Regions from separate parts of the Homo sapiens genome. Here region 1 is linked to region 2. Evidence: fine-mapped expression QTL. Tissue or cell type: whole blood. Region 2 holds a variant in brackets; the other region holds the start of a gene. All regions are shown on one strand. Distances are between the middles of the regions.

Region 1 (8,075 bases), 44 kb before region 2:
AACTTTCAAGAAACTGATGTATAAACTTCAGTGCCATGATGTAACTGCTCTGCGCCTTAAGGCAGGATTCCCAACCCCTGGGCCTTGGACTGTTACTGGTCCGTGGCCTGTTAGGAACGGGGCCACACAGCAGGAGGTGAGTACTTGTGAGCCAGCATTCCCGCCTGCGCTCCGGCTCCTGTCAGATCAGCAGCTGCATCAGATTCTCACAGGAGCGCAAACCGTACTCTGAACTGCGCACGTGAGGGATCTAGGTTGTGAGCTCCTTATGAGAATCTAATGCCTGATGATCTGAGGCGGAACAGTTTCATGCCAAAACCATTATCTGCCCCCACTCATCCGTGGAAAAATTGTCTTCCATGAAACTGGTCCCTGTTGCCAAAAAGGCTGGGGACTGCTGCCTTAAGGGGCATTGTGGGTGAAGGAGGAGGAGGCAGCTGAGGCCCTGGCTCCTGTACTGGCTGGAGCCTGGCTCTGGGTCCTCCTTTAGATGTGAGCAGGTGGCTGCTTCACTGGTAGAGCTTGGGCTACACTGAGGTTTGCAGATGGAGGCTGGAGGGCAGGACAGAGGTGCAGAAGAGAACATTTATTCATTCAACAACTATGTATTGAGCACCCACTAGGTGCCAGATACTGTTGAAGGATGTTTAGGGATACCTCATGGACAAAGTGCTCTGCTCTCATGGAGCCGTGAGACAGCCCACAAGGAGGCTCAGGAAGTAAAACGTGAAGGTAGAGAGGTGAGTGATGGCCAAGGAGGCAAAGGCAGCAGCCTGCTCCTGATCACAGCCCCAACCTTTGCACATGCCCCCCTCCCTTACCAGAGCTGCGGGATCAGGTTCTATTTTTATCCTCCTGTGACAGGGGAGGAAACCTGGGTCGGGGAGATTAAGTGGCTTCACTTGGGAAATTCAGCAGTACCAGAGGTTAAAATTCCAAGAGCCTGAGCAGGAAGGGAGAGGATGATGGGCTGCTAGGGGCTGGAGGGGACTGCAGAGCCACCCCAAATCCCTTCTCAATGGCAGCCCTGCTGGCTTTCAGCTGTTTGCCACTGTGGCCCCTAAACTAGTCTTCAGAGATAGTAGCACAGGGGCTGAGATGCTCAAATGAGAGTTTCTGTCCTGTTCCCTTACAGATTCTGCTTCCTAGAGACTTCTCCAGCCTCGGGAAAGTTGGCTCCATGGAGCCATCCGGGCCACTCATGTGTGGGTGAGCAGCGGGAAGGGAAAGAAGGGGACCTTGGTGCTTCCATCAGAGCCAGTGCCCAGGGAGCGCCTGGGTTCCTGCCATACTCCTGGGGGTCACCTTAGGGCAGTGGGAGGCCCATAAGGGTTGGGGGCATTTGGTCAGCAGCCTCAGACACGCTGGCTGGTCAGGGCAGCCTGCTGTGTGCATGTACCTGGGTTCCTTGAGGTCAAGACCAGGCGGAAAGGCTTTTTGTTCTAGCCTTGGGAGGAGTGCAGTGGGGTCTGTGTAAGTGGTGAGGTGGCCATCCTGGTGGTCAGAGTGCTCAAGATACCCAAGGAGATGAGATGCAGACAGCAGGAATGGGTTGCAGCCTCCAAGGTGGCTAACACAGAAGCCTGTAGGTTGAGGAACTGCACCGGGGGTTTGGGGACACAACCAGGATGGTAGTTCTAAGGGAACTGCCTGCAGATCCTCACCTCTCATATTCCCCCTCCCCGACCTTCCTGCGCCTGAGGACTGCACTTTGTCCATTTTGCCAACTAGAAAGGCAAGGCTGGAACCTCGTCCTAGAGCCTTGCCCTGGAGTGTGAGAAGGTCCTGGGCTCCCAGCAGAAACAGAGGGACAGGATTGGGAAAGGTGTTGGCTTCCCCTGCAAACTCTTCCTAAGACCCCGGGGCTTTGGGTCTCAGCCGTCCTGCAAATTGGCTCTGTGACCTTGGGCAGGACCCTTTGCCTCACTGAGCCTGTTTCCTTACCTGTCAGCCTGGAACAGAACACCTGCCTTCTGGGTGAGCATGGGGATGAATTGTCTCTGTGCTGGCACTCACTTTGTGAATATTGCATAGATGTGTGCATTTCAGGCAGTGGAGCTGCTGCTCAACTTGGAACACACCTGGGGACCCCAGGGGCTTGGGGTGGGTGCAGCCCACACAAGGAAACTCGACCTTGCAGTTGGCAGGTTCAGCAGGCACCAAGGAACCTCGTTTTGTTTTTGACGTTTTTATTGGGGTCTAATGTACACAACGTGTAACCACCTTAAGTTACAGCTGGATTAAAATTGATTTATGTGGCCGGGTGCGTTGGCTCACGCTTGTAATCCCAGCACTTTGGGAGTCCGCGGTGGGCGGATCATCTCACGTCAGGAGTTTGAGAACAGCCCAGTCAACACGGTGAAACCCCATCTCTACTAAAAAATACAAAAATTAGCCGGGCGTGGTGGCGGGTGCCTGTAATCTCAGCTACTCGGGAGGCTGAGCCAGGAGAATGGCTTGAACCCGGGAGGCGGACGTTGCAGTGAGCCGAGATCGAGCCACTCACTACACTACAGCACTCCAGCCTGGGTGACAAGAGCGAAACTAACGTCTCAAAAAAAAAAAAAAAAAACAAAAACCAAAAAAACAACAAAACCCCCCCCCCCACAACTTGATTTATGTGTAAACCCGAGTCGTCATCACCCAAAACAAGATGCAAAACGTGTCCACGGGCTGAACCTTTCAAGATACAGAAAAAGGGCCAGGGGTGGCCCTCTCCCGGAATCTCAGGCTGGGAACCTGGTATCTAGTTCCCGCCCCTCACTGGGCAGATGGGGAAACCGGGGCTTGGGGCGAGAAGGTCCCCAGGCAGAGCTGGGAGCACCCCTAACTCTTCGCCAGCTCTGGGGACTTGGCGCCCTCTCCAGCAACAGCGAACTTGGGCGCCCGCGCCCCAGCAAGTCGGGTGGGGGAGATGGTGACACGGAGGGCGCGGCAGAGCGCGGCTCCTCCCCGGGCGGGGCCGACCTGCCCGCGCGCACCGACGCCCCGCCCCCCGCCCCGCGCGCGCGCTCCCGCCAGGCTAATTAGGCGCGCGGTTTGTTTACAAACACGGGCTCCCGGCAGGTGCGCGCCGCCCCGCCCGTGCGCGGCCGGGGTTCGAGGGTGGCTCCCGCGGGCCTCGGGGTGCCCGGACGGGGGCTGCGGTGCTGGCTGCGTGCCCGCTTCTTCCATGCCGTCCTGGGGCACCGGAAAATCCGCCGCCAGGCGCTGTCCCCGACACGGGGTGAGGAGAGCCGTGCGGGCCCGGGCGGGGAACGGCCCACGGGGTCCCAGCGTTGTTGCCCTGCCGGGCGGGCGCCGAGCCCCGCCCCCGCGCGCCCCCCGGGCCAGGCCCGCTCTCGGCCGGGTCGGCGGGGCGGGCGGGGGCCCCCGGGGCGGGGCGCGGCGCCGGCGGGGCCGGGACATGTAGTCCGCGCGCCCGCGGCCTCCCCTGGGCGGCCCCGGCGCGGGCCCGGCCGCGGACTACGACTCCCGCCAGGCGCCGCGGCGCAGCGCATGAGCCCTGCTCGGCTCCGGCGCGTCTATTATGCTGCCGGGGCCGGCGAGCCAAAGAGGAGCCGGCCGCGCGGGCCGGGAGGGGACGGCCGCCGGAGCCGCGAGGCCAAGTACGCCTTTCTCTTGCTTCCTTGCGCGCGCGGGGCGGCGGGCGGCGCGGGCGGCGGCGGGCCGGGCTGGGCCGGGGAGCGCGGCCCCGAGCGCCCCGCGCAGTCCGCCGGCGCGTCCGGGTGAACCGGGCGCCCGGGGCCGCCGCCGCCGCCGCCGCCTTTGTGCGCGGCCACGATGCAACAAAGCGCGGCGGCCGCCCGGGGTCGCGGCGGCGGTGGCGGCGGCGGTGGCGCGGGCTCCGCTCCCCTCCTCCCGCTCCCGCTTGGCCGCCTCCGTCCCGGACTCGGGGCGTCGCTGCGGCCGGGGCGCGCAGCCCGGAGTTGGCGCGGCCCGCGCGCCCCGCGCCAGCCCGGCCTCCGCGCGCCCTCCCTCACGGAAGGGATTTTTTTCCCCCTTTCCTCCGCCCGCCATCTTTCGAAGGGGGAACCCAGGGAGGACGCGGAGGGGGAAGGTGCGCGCGGCGGCCCCGGCCTGCGGCCGTGCGCTCCGCGGGGCCACTTTCCCCGCGCCTGTTCCGCCGGCCTCGCTCCCGAGCCGTTGCTGGGGCCCGCGCCTGGGGACCGTCGCCGCGCGCCGCGGCCGGGGCGGGGGGCAAGGCCGGGCTCGGCCCTGGGCTCTGCGCGGCCTCCTCCCAGAGTTACGGGCCCAGAGCTGACTTTGAGCCCCCCTGAGTTGCCGGATTATTGCACCCAAACCAGGGGGAGACCCAGTTCCCGTTTTGAAATCAGCCTGAAAATCGCTTAATCCGGGCGAGGGCGAGTTGGAGCGGGAGGGACGGGGGTGCTTCCCCTCCTTCCCACTTTTGGGGGGCGCCGGAGTGACAACGTGATACAAGCCCATCCGGGGAGAAATGCGCACCCCGAACCGTGTACACCCACATGGCCCTGGTGGGCTCTCTGTGAATAAAGCTGGGGCGTGCGGGAAGTCTTATTCCACCGGTTGCTCGTTCGGGGGCAGGGCCGGGATGGGGGCTTCGCGCGGCCTCCTTTCCCTGGAGGGCGAGAACTCGGCCCGCCGAGACCCACCGGGGGCAGGGACCCGGCGTCCATCGTGTGGGTTCCTCCGTTCGACCCAATCCTTGAGTGGTTGCGATCTTTAATTTTGGTTGAAAGCTTTCTGCTCAGAAATAGATACTGGGATTTCTCCCCCTTACATTAAACTTGGTCATTGTCTGCAAAAGTTAACCAGGAGGGGAGACTGTAGTGCATTGGTGGGCAGAGTAATTGGGCTGGAACTGCAAGAGGCAGCTTCGTGTGTCCCGTCCTCCCCCGCCCTACCCTGTGAGAAGGAACAGAAGAGGAAAAGAGTTTTCTTTTTACCCTGCTCTTTTGTAGGCTTTTCCCCTTACTCTTTTCTTTAAAATGGAGGGTTTTTTTTTTTTCCTGGGTCCATGTAGTATGCCTGGGGAGATCCTGGAATCTATGCAAAGTTGTATGGCATTTTTCTGGGGAAAGTAGTTTGTTACTGGCTTCCAACGGGGTCTAAGGAAGGTCTGAACCCCTGCAAGGGGCTGGCCTCGGGGGTTAGGGAGCCCTCCCTCCGGGTTCTTCCCTGGCAGCCCTGATGCAGCCTCTCATTTGCAAATAAAGGTCTGTGTTTGCCGTTTTCTCTGTTGAGGCCTTGATGGGTGCTGGTGGTTACTGATCATGAAAGATAAGGCACACGCTGTAACAGGACGGGCTGCAGGCGAGCGAGGGGCATTTCTTTCTGACCTTCCGGGTAGCCTCAGAGGCCCGGTGCCTCAGCAGGGCACCGGGTGCCTGGAAAGACTGTGGGAGCAGCTCCAGCCTGAGCCCTGCCGTTGGGACATCCGGGGAGGAGGGATTTCAAAAGCTTTCTCCGAGTGGGCAGTCACTCCATTTTTATTTTTGTTTTGTTTTTAGAAAGTAGAGTAATTACTTTCCTTTGACAACAGCTCGCGCCTGCTTCGGAAGTGAGTGAGCTTTGAATGAAGGACGGGACTTGCAAACAGTGCCTGCCCTACACTCCGAAGTAGTCATACCCAGAAAGTGAAAGTGGGGGTGTGCAGAGCGAAGCAGCCAGGCCTGCTGCAGCCGGTGCTACCTTCCTCTACCCTCTTCCTCCAGGCTCTGGAGATGCCAGCCGCGGGAGCCCTGTGCACCAGGCGGCAGTGATGGCCTTGTGCGATTCCTGGTGCCACCAGGAAGTGCCACCACTTTCCCTGAGGCATGGTGGCTCAGGGTTTCCCAAGTGGGGTGATTGGCACAAAACCAACAGCTATGCCCAGTTGTCGATGGGAAGAGCCATGTTTTGCTGTGGATACACACGGTACCGGGGCGGGGTATGGGGAACCGGGGCCTACTCTTCCCAGCGTTGCTGCCTGGGAGGTGGGGGCATGCCTGAAGTCGTGCTGCGGGTCTCTTGGTTTTCAAAGCAGTTAACGCAGTTGGTCAGAGGATCCTCCTCTTGCTTCCTTGACCGGTCATCAAAGTATAACTGACCTGACGGGGTTCCTGTCCTAGGCAGGTTCCTTTTTTTTTTTTTTTCTCTTCTCCTCTTGAGATGGAGTCTCGCATTGTTGCCCAGGCTGGAGTGCAGTGGCACGATCTCAGCCCACTGTAACCTCTACCTCCCGGGTTCTAGCAATTCTCCTGCTTCAGCCTCCCAAGTAGCTGGGATTACAGGCGTCCGCCACCACGCCCAGCTAATTTTTTGTATTTTTAGTAGAGACAGGGTTTCACTGTGTTGGACAGGCTGGTCTCGAACTCCTCACCTCGTGATCCACCTGCCTTGGCCTCCCAAAGTGCTGGGATTACAGGCATGAGCCACCGTGCCTAGCCAGCAGGTCCCTTATATCACGAAGCCAGTATCTGGTTGAAGCTAGAAGGTAACTGGATGAATCATGGTAGAATGCAAGGCTTCTTGCCGTAAAAGGTTTTGGAACTTGCGGGTCTGCCTTGGGCCTTCCCGACCCCTGTGGCTCCGCCCCCTTGTTGGAGCAGAAGAGATGCACAGGTAGCAAAGCATGATGGGGTGCCAGGTGCATTTGGGTCAGCGTTTGCCAAGAATGGCCTTGCTCCTGTGTTTTTGTTGGTACTGCCACCTTGTAGAGGTGCCCAGCTGGTGGCGGAGCATAGGGTTTTCTTTGCCTATTCTCCTTCCTGTGAAATCATGGGCACAGACATCATGGGCCCCTGTGCCCGGGCCTCCCTGCTCTGGTTCCTGGGCTCCTGCCATCTGAGAGGCTTGAGGGCTTGCTTATTTGTTTGTTTGTTTGTATTTTTAGTAGAGATGGCGTTTCACCATGTTGGCCAGGCTGGTCTCAAACTCTTGGCCGTGAGTGACCCACCCGTCTCTGCCTCCTGAAGTGCTGGGATTACAAGCGTGAGCCACCATGCTCGGCCAAGATGCTTGAGAGCTCATTTATTTATTTACTTATTTTGAGACAGAGTATCACTCTGTTGCCCAGGCTGGTGTGTAATGGCATGATTTCCCTTCACTGCAACCTCCACCTCCTGGGTTCAAGCAATTCTCCCTGGCTCAGCCTGCCAAGTAGCTGGGATTACAGGTGCCCGCCACCACGCCTGGCTATTTTTTTTAATTTTTTTTAATTTTTTAGTAAAGATGGGGTTTCGCCATGTTGGCCGGGCTGGTCTTGAACTCCTGACCTCAGGTGATCCACCCATCTCAGCCTCCCAAAGTGCTGAGATTACAGGTGTGAGCCACCATGCCTGACCGAGAGCTCTTTTAAAGAGAAAGTGTCACTTTGGGCCATTCACCTGTTGGTGGTTTAAATTGTAAGTCTTCTGGCCACTCCTGATTGAGCTCGCAGTGGAGCCAGGACCTGTGCGTGTGGCTGGAGGCTCGGACCCTGTTGTGTCCGTGCTGTTGGCTGTCTGCGTCTCGCACCAGTCTGTGGCTGTTCCCTGAGAGTCAGTTCGCAGGCTGCCTCCTCACAGGGCCTTCGGAGCCTGGTGTTGGGAAGATGGGGCGTGGAACATGCCCCCGCCCCCCTCCTTGCCGCAGGCCCCCAAGGTACTGAGTTCGTCAGAAGTTAATCCGGTATTGTGGGAGACAACTTTTCCAGCCACTTGGAAAAGTGTCCCGCTGAGGGTGCAGTGATGTTCAGGAGTCGCCGGCTGGATCTTTCTGAGTGTGGCTTGATAACCAGCTGCAGCATTTTGCAAAGCACCCAGTGGACTCGGGTGTGATCTGCAGAGGCGGCTGCTGGCCAGGCCTGGAGTCTGGGGCAGAGGGAGTGCCCTCAGTGCACCTGTGAGGACCTGGGACTAAGAGTCGGTACCTGGGAGCTGTGGGACTCTGGGGCGGGACGGCCTTAGCCTCCGTGTGAGCACTGACCGAGATGAGGCACAGATGCATCTGTGTGAGGTGCCCGGCCCCTGCAGGAGTGCTGAGTATTGTAGCTATAACCTGTCATGTGGCAGAAGGAAGAATCTACTATAAGCGGCTGAGAGGATGCCCTCCCTGTGCCATGCGTCACTGGA
Region 2 (8,089 bases):
ACCGCGGCTGTGCTGAGGGGTTCGGGGGCCAATTCTGCGCTTCTTGGGTTCTTACACCACAGTTTGATCTTCACGTTCATTATTCAAAATCTTCCAGCAAGGATTGGAAATCAACAAGACAACTGAATGAAACTCAGGTCTGTTTTCCTCAAAGTGTGGTCCTGGGTTCAGGTGCTCACATCGGAATTACATAATTGTGCAAAACTTGGACTGCCCTGTGTCCCTAGAGACCTCGAGCTTGTTTTTGTCTCGGACCAAGATGGCCTCATTTCCATACTGTGAGTACCACATGCTTCGGCTCCTGCTCAGGTACGTCCCAGGTGGCACCGACTCCAACTTCTGCTGTTGCTGCTGCCAGATGAGCAAGGAGGTGTCCCTGTACCGGAGGCGGGCGTAGCCTTCAGACAAGGCCTTCTCTGCCAGGGGGACACGGCCACTCATCCCCTCCCCCGTCCCGCTGGACTCCTGGGAACCCTGCTGTTCTGAGACGGCCCACGCGCACTAAATTAACGGACAGCTTTCCCAGCTTTGGGGCTTAAGGATCCCTCGTTTAACTGAATGGTAGAAATTAGGAATTCCGCCCATTTGCAGGCAACGTCCTCAGGAGGGTTGTGTGGTGAGGAAATGAGGCGGCCTCACCATTCTGAAGACACCTGAGACCCATTCAGGGGACCGCACACAGGTCAGAGCGGCGCCCGGCCACAGCTCTTCCGGGTGCAGCTGTGTGGAATTGACAGGGACGAGGCGTCACACCCTGGGGGGTGATTCTGCCACCATGGCCTGGACCACTGAGCTTGAAGAGATGGATCCAGTGCCCTGAGGAAGGGACATGGTGGCCCCAGACGCAAGCTGGAAGGAGCTCCGGTGGCACGCCCCGCACGCATCTGTCCGGGCCAGCTTTCAGGGCAACGGCTGTTCTGACCCACCCTGGGGATCCAGCCCCAGCGTTTGTTCAGGTCTCGTCTCTCCCCAAAGGTGCTGCTGCAAAGGAACGAACGTGCTGTCAGGAGAGGGGAAGTCAAGCGCCCCGGCAGCGGCGGCAGTCTGCAGCGCAGCATCAAGTCTCTGGGGGTCAGCGGCCTAGATCGAGCTACTTACGTCCCGTGGGGCAGCCTGGGAGCTGGGTGGAGAGTGAGACGGGCGCCCAGTGCCAGCTTTTTCAGTCACTGGGAGGTGCTGGGGAGGCTGCTTGTTGGGGCTTCAGGGTCTCCATCTGTGAAACAGGAGCCAGCGGCGCTTGAAAGGGCGCGGGTTCCCGGAGACGCCGCCAGGCGTCAGCCCCGGGACCGGAAGGGGCCCCCAGGGCCGCCTTGCTGCTCCGAGCATCCAGCTCCCGTGAGGCCCCTGGACCCAAACAAAAACGATGTCAGGAGAAAACAAACAGGGAAGCATCGCAACCCACTCCCGAACGCCTTCCCAGCTGCGCAGCGTCAGGGACCTCCCCTCCTGGGATGCCTGCGCTAGGTCAGCCTCAGCTTCCCGGGCCCCCATCGCGCGTCCCCGCCACCTGCGCGCACCCTGGGGTCCCCGTCGCGTGGCCCGCGGCCCCCATCCCCGCGCCCCAGACCCCGCGCGCTCTGGGTCGCCCCATCCTCCAGCCCCCTATCGTCTGCCCGCATCCCCGGGTCCCCCACGTCGCCCGCCCCAGTCACCGCTCGTCGCGGGCCTCGGAGATGCGGGCAGCGGCGCGACGCACTGCGGGGCTCCCAGGGCGGGGCCGGCGGCCGCTGGGCCGTGTCTCCATGGCAGCGCCGCAGGCCTGGCGAGCCGAGCGCAGAGGCTGGGCAGGCGTGTGCGACGAGCCCAAGCCATCGATCGCTCCGCGAGGAGGGGCTGGGCCCGCCCCGAATAGGAACTGGAAGAGGAGGAGGAGGGGCTGGAGGAGGAGGGGCTGGAGGAGGAGGGGCTGGAGGAGGAGGAGGGAGGAGGAGGAGGAGCTGGGAGAGGAGGGGCTGGGAGAGGAGAAAGGGCTGGATGAGGAGGAGGGGCTGGAGGAGGAGGAGGGGCTGGGAGAGGAGGAGCTGAACGAGAAGGAGGAGCAGAAGGAGGAGTGGAGGAGAAGGAGGAGCAGGAGGAGGAGCTGGGGGAGGAGGAGGAGCTGAGAGAGGAGGAGGAGATGGAGGAGGAGGGGCTGGATGGTGAGGGGCTGGGAAAGGAGGAGGGGCTGGGAGCGGAGGTGGGAGGAGGGGCTGGCAGAGGAGAAGGGGCTGAGGAGGTACTGGAAAAGAAAGAGGAGCAGGAGCTGGAGGAAGACGTGGAGGAGGAGCTGGAGGAGGATGAAGAGAAGGAGTGGGACGCCCACAACCCTGTTAGTAAGACACTGCCGGACTGTATGGTCTTATCATCTTGGTTTTCGTATTTCTGCTTGTGTGGTTACTTTTGCCACTGCTGTTACTGCTTTTATTAGTATTCTTACTCTCAGTAATTGATACAATTATTTTTAATTAATTAAATGTCCGGGCTTACTATCTCAAAAATAGGTCTTGAATTTCTCCATCTCATCCAACCAAGCCAGGCCTCTATACTGCTCATTTGGACTCCTCAACAGCCCCATGAAAGCAAGGTCTATTTCCTTTTCTCACTCCACCTCCAATCATACTCCAATAGCACTCTTTTAGTATCTACCCTTTTCCCCTAATTTTATGGTTTTCTCCAATGCCAATTAAGAAAACTAGCATAATGGAACCTGGTGTGGTGGCTCACCTCTGAGTCCCACCTACTTGGGAGGCTGAGGCAGGAGGATCCCTTGAGCCAGGAGTTCGAGGCTGCAGTGAGCCATAATCATGCCACTGCACTTCAGCTGGGACGAAACAGCAAAACCCCATCTCTAAAAAAAAAGAAAATAAGCATAACAGACATCCAAGGAAGATGCTTAGTGTGAGCACTAAGCCCACAGCTGTGGAACGCACATTCTTTTTTTTTTTTTTTTTGAAAGGGAATCTCACTCTGTCACCCAGGGTGGAGTGTGGTGGCACGATCTCAGCTCACTGCAACCTCCGCCCCCCAGGTTCAAGCGATTCTCCTGCCTCAGCCTCCTGAGTAGCTGGGACTACAGGCGCCGGCAACCACGCCCAGCTAATTTTTGTATTTTTAGTAGAGACAGGGTTTCACCATATTGGCCAGGCTGGTCTCGAACTCCTGACCTTGTGATCCGCCTGCCTCGCACTTTCTTCACAAGTACCTACACAGGACGTTTAGCAAAACTGATCACATGCTGGACCATAAATCAGTTTCAACAAATTTGAAAACGTTTAAATCTTACATGATCTCCCAGTCTTCCGACCTGGGAAAAGACAGCAACCGAAGTTATACTGCTTTCAAGAGACACAAGAACAGGCCTGTATTCAAAGACCCATTTAACACTTTTACCTCTATCTGGCTGGGTGCGGTTTTCACGCCTGTAATCCCAGCACTTTGGGAGGCCTAGGCGGTCACATCACTTGAGGTCAGGAGTTCGAGACCAGCCTAGCCAACATGATGAAACCCTGTCTCTACCAAAAATATAAAAAATTAGCCCAGTGTGGTGGCAGGCGCCTGTAATCCCAGCTACTCAGGAGGCTGAGGCAGGAGAATCTCTTGAACCCAGGAGGCGGAGGTTGCAGTGAGCTGAGATTGCACCATTGCACTCCAGCTTGGGTGACAGAGTGAGACCCCATCTCAAAAAAAAAAAAAAAAAATTGCCTCTAAGCTAATATAATTTGTTCTATGCCTTGAACTAAATAATTTGAATATTTAGTTACCTGTAAGCTTCCTTTTCCTGTCGTTGTCAAAACCAAATAGGACTTATATTTCTGTTCGAAACATTTACTTATGTTTTGTTTTCCAGAGTCAAAAAGCTGTTTTTCCTTTTAAGCTATTTTATAGCTACAACAATTAAGTAAAAAATGAAGATTACCTCTCTTTTTCTACCTGATATCTCCAGAATCTGAAAATGATTTAAAATCCCATTGGCTCCAATCTGATTTGATATCAAACACCCTCCCTCTAGGCCCAGGGACAATTGCAGAAGAGGTAAACGCATGAGATTGTAAGGGCTGGTTTCGAGGGATAAAATTTGTTCAGACCCTCTGAATCAAAGATGGTTCACAAATACCTAAATAGCTGATAGCTCAATACATAAAACTTAGAGATAAGTCAATTTTGTAACCTCACGTTTTGGATTTTGGTTTTTGCCTCTTATGTTGCACAAAAGGTTGTTTTTTGTTGTTGTTGTTGTTTGTTTTATTTTGATTTTTTTGAGATGGAATCTCGCTCTGTCGCCCAGACCGGAGTACAATGGTGCAATCTCAGCTCACTGCAACCTCCGCCTCCCAGGTTCAAGTGATTCTCCTGCCTCAGCCTCCCGAGTAGCTAGGGTTACAGGCATGTGCCACCATGCCTGGCTCATTTTGTATTTTTAGTGGAGACAGGGTTTCACTATGTTGATCAGGCTGGTCTCAAACTCCTGACCTCGTGATCCACCCGCCTCAGACTCCCAAAGTGCTAGGATTACAGGCATAAGCCACCGCACCTGGCTGCACAAAAGGTTTTTAAGGGTGAATGAGTGCCTGCCCATCTCCTTTCCTATCTGTCCTAAAACATTTA[A/G]TTAGCTGTCTTTCAGTCTTTTGGCTCTAAGTCTCTTGGCCATAGGGATCCCACCAAGGGACAAGATGGACCCAGTGCAGGTAGCACACAGCCCCAGCAACGATATAGGACAAAATAAAAGTTTGGTCATCAATGCCATCTCTGGCAAATCTTGGCCAAAAGAAGGGAATATAAACTAAAAATAAAATCCTAAACTCCTCACTGACTGAACGGATCCCCTCTTGGCCAAGGGGACCTCAGAAAAAACTTAAAACTGAGTTCCCAGCCACGATGGGATAGGAGAGCCCACTCATGTCGTTATAACTCCTCCCTTTGGTGACTTAGAGACAAGGCACTAGCATTTGCGTTAAAATATGTAAGACTGAAAACATAGAAGACTGAAAAACAGACTCTTTATGGCGATAACATACCAAATTATAAATAAGACCTGTGGCTGGGCATGGTGACTCACATCTGTAATCCCAGCACTTTGAGAGTCCAAGGCGGGCAGATCACTTGAGGCTGAGAGTTCGAGACCAGCCTGGCCAACATGGTGAACCCCCATCTCTACAAAAAATACAAAAATTAGCTGGACATAGTGGCGCATGCCTGTAATCCCAGCTACTTGGGAGGCTGAGGCAGGAAAACCACTTGAACCCAGGAGGTGGAGGTTGCAGTGAGCCAAGATGGCACAACTGCACTCCAGTCTGGGTGACAAAGTGAGACTCTGATTCCAAAAATAAATAAATTAATTAATTAATAAGATTTAGGGCCATGCCAGGCACAAGTTAAGTCCTACACCTCTACAATTAAAGAATAAACTCTATTCTCACTGCCACGAGGTTGTTCCTTTTCTCTAGCAGCTAAGTAAGTACTGACCTCAAGATAAACAATGTTAAAACGATTTGCAGCTCATCCAGCTCCAGATGCTAACTGACCCCATTCACCCACCATAACTAGCTTTCTCTTCTTTTGAAACAGCGTCTCACTCTGTCCTCCAGGCTAGAGTGCAGTGGTGCAATCCTGGCTGAGTGCAGCTTCAACCTCCCAGCCTCAAGCAATCCTCCCACCTCAGCCTCCCAAGTAGCTGGGCCTACAGGTGTGCACCACTAGGTGTACCAGTAGGTCCACCCGGGAGGTGGAGTTTGCACCCAGCTACTTTTTGTATTTTTGGTAGAGATGGGGTTTTGCCATGTTGCCTAGGCTGATCTCAAATTCCTGGGCTTAAACAATCCTCCCATCGTGGCCTCCCAAAGTGCTGGGACTACAGGTGTGAGCCACTATGCCCAGCCAACTACAGCTTTCATTGAACAAGAGACTGATTTCAGCAACTTTCTCCAGGTAAGACCACTGACTATGGATTGGTTCCGGCTGGTTCAGAGAGGCTGCATACTTGTGTGCTTTTGTGTCCTGGAAAGACCTTTTTACTATAAGGCCTAATTTTATTTTATGTATGTATATATTTTTATTTATTTGAGACGGAGTCTCCCACTATTGCCCAGGCTGGAGTGCTGTGGTGCCATCTCGGCTCACTGCAACCTCCGCCTCCTGGGTTCAAGTGATTCTCCTGCCTCAGCCTCCCAAGTAGCTAAGACTACAGGTGTGCACCACGGTGCCCAGCTAGTTTTTTTTTTATTTTTAGTAGAGACTGGGTTTCACCGTATTGGCCAGACCTCAGCCTCCCAAAGTGCTGGGATTACAGGCGCGAGCCACTGCACCCAGCCTATAAGGCCTAATTTTAGTACATTTTGATGCTAAGTCTCCACCCCAAGGTGAACATGAGTTGTATGTTACATGCATGTTTGTTCAGTATGCATGTTGTCAGGACCTTCATGAATATTCATAGCTCCTCCTATAACCTGTTGAATGTGTATGTTTAGCCAACCTGTTCAGCATGGAGCTCCTGCCCCAACCCCTCCTCCTTCAGAGGCACATTTTCCAGCCTGTGGGATGGCCACCTTGCTGGCTGTAACCCTTTATGAGAAAGAAAGTCACCCAGGCGCAGTGGCTCACACCTGTAGTCCCAGCAATTTGGGAGGCCAAGGCGGGCAGATCACTTAAACTCAGGAGTTCAAGACCAGCCTGGCCAACATGGCAAAACCCCATTTCTACAAAAAGTACCTGGGCATGGTGAAAGGCACCTATAGTCCCAGCTACCTGGGAGGCTGAGGCAGGAGGGTTGCTTGAGCCCAGGAGGCAGCGGTCGCAGCGAGTCATGATTGCATCACTGTACTCCAGCCTGGGCAACAGAGTATTTATGGATATTGTGGGGTTCTTTTTTCAATTAACAGTACAAATTCAGGAGAATCTCAGACAAATTATTAAAATTAATAAGACAGGGCTGGGCGAGGTGGCTCACACCTGTAATCCTAGCACTTTGGGAGGCTGAGGCGGGTGGATCACGAGGTCAGGAGTTGGAGACCAGCCTGGCCAACATAGTGAAACCCTGTCTCTACTAAAAATACAAAGAATTAACCAGGCGTAGTGGTGGGTGCCTGTAATCCCAGCTACTGGGGAGGCTGAGGCAGGAGAATCGCTTGAGCCCGGGAGGCGGAGGTTGCAGTGAGCTGAGATTGCGCCACTGCACTCCAGCCTGGGCAACAGAGACAGACTGCGTCTCAAAGGAAAAAAAAAAGTCTTTTTGTTCCTGTCTAGCTGCCCCACCCATTGTCTTCATGTTCCTGGAATATGTGTATAAAAAACAATGGATAGCCAATCAATAGCTTGTTATTTTAATGTAAATTTTTGGTAAACAATTCAGGAACTCCCCTTCTTTTCCTTTAAAAATCCTCTAGTAACCGCTACTAACTGGAGTGGATGTTCAGGGCAACTTGCATGCTCCGGGTTGCAGCCCTCAAGCTTGGCCCAAATAAACTCTCTACTTACATTAATTTTTCCTCAGCTTCTTCCTTTTAGGTTGCAAACCAAAAATAAAATCCTGGCCAGCCATGTTGGCTCATGCCTGTAATCCCAACATTTTGGGAGGCCAAGGCGGGTGGATTGCTTGAGCCCAGGAGTTCAAGATCAGCCTGGGCAGCATGGTAAAACCCCTTTTTAAATAAAAATACAAAAAATTAGCCAGGCATGATGGTGTGTACCTGAAGTCCCAGTTACTTGGGAGGCTAAAGTGGGAGCAATGCTTGAGCCCGAGAGGTCAAGGCTGCAGTGAGCTGTGGTTGCACCACTGTACTCCAGCCTTGGCGACAGAGTGAGACCCTATCTCAAAAAAGTTTTAAGGGCCAGGCACGGTGGCTCACGCCTGTAATCTCAGTACTTTGGGAGGCCAAGGTGGGCAGGTCACCTGAGGTCAGGAGTTTGAGACCAGCCTGACCAATATGATGAAACCCTGTCTCTACTAAAAATACAAAAATTAGCTGGGTGTGGTGGCGGGCACCTGTAATCCCAGCTACTTGGGAGGCTGGGACAGGAGAATTGCTTGAACCCGGGAGGTGGAGGTTGCAATGAGCCGAGATCACACCATTGCACTCCAGCCTGGGAGACGAGTGAAACTCCGTCTCAAAAAAAA

Evidence for each region. PIP is the estimated chance that this variant, and not a neighbour inherited with it, causes the effect.
Region 1: it holds the start of BRD3, and the variant in region 2 is fine-mapped to the expression of BRD3 in whole blood (INTERVAL, PIP 0.96).

The regions. Positions count from the first base shown.
Region 1 is chr9:134,063,478-134,071,552 of GRCh38, reverse strand. It overlaps BRD3 (bromodomain containing 3), which reads left to right and starts at 3,527. Exons shown (of 12, transcript NM_007371.4): 1 at 3,527-3,608. RefSeq lists silencers at 2,922-3,651, 3,832-4,081 and an enhancer at 8,053-8,075.
Region 2 is chr9:134,019,100-134,027,188 of GRCh38, reverse strand. It overlaps BRD3OS (BRD3 opposite strand), which reads right to left and starts at 1,708. Exons shown (of 3, transcript NM_001355256.2): 1 at 1,653-1,708; 2 at 1,099-1,344; 3 at 1-981. The coding sequence starts at 441. The coding sequence ends at 187. RefSeq lists silencers at 1,415-1,834, 2,145-2,274. The variant A/G (reference allele first, on the strand shown) is at 4,585.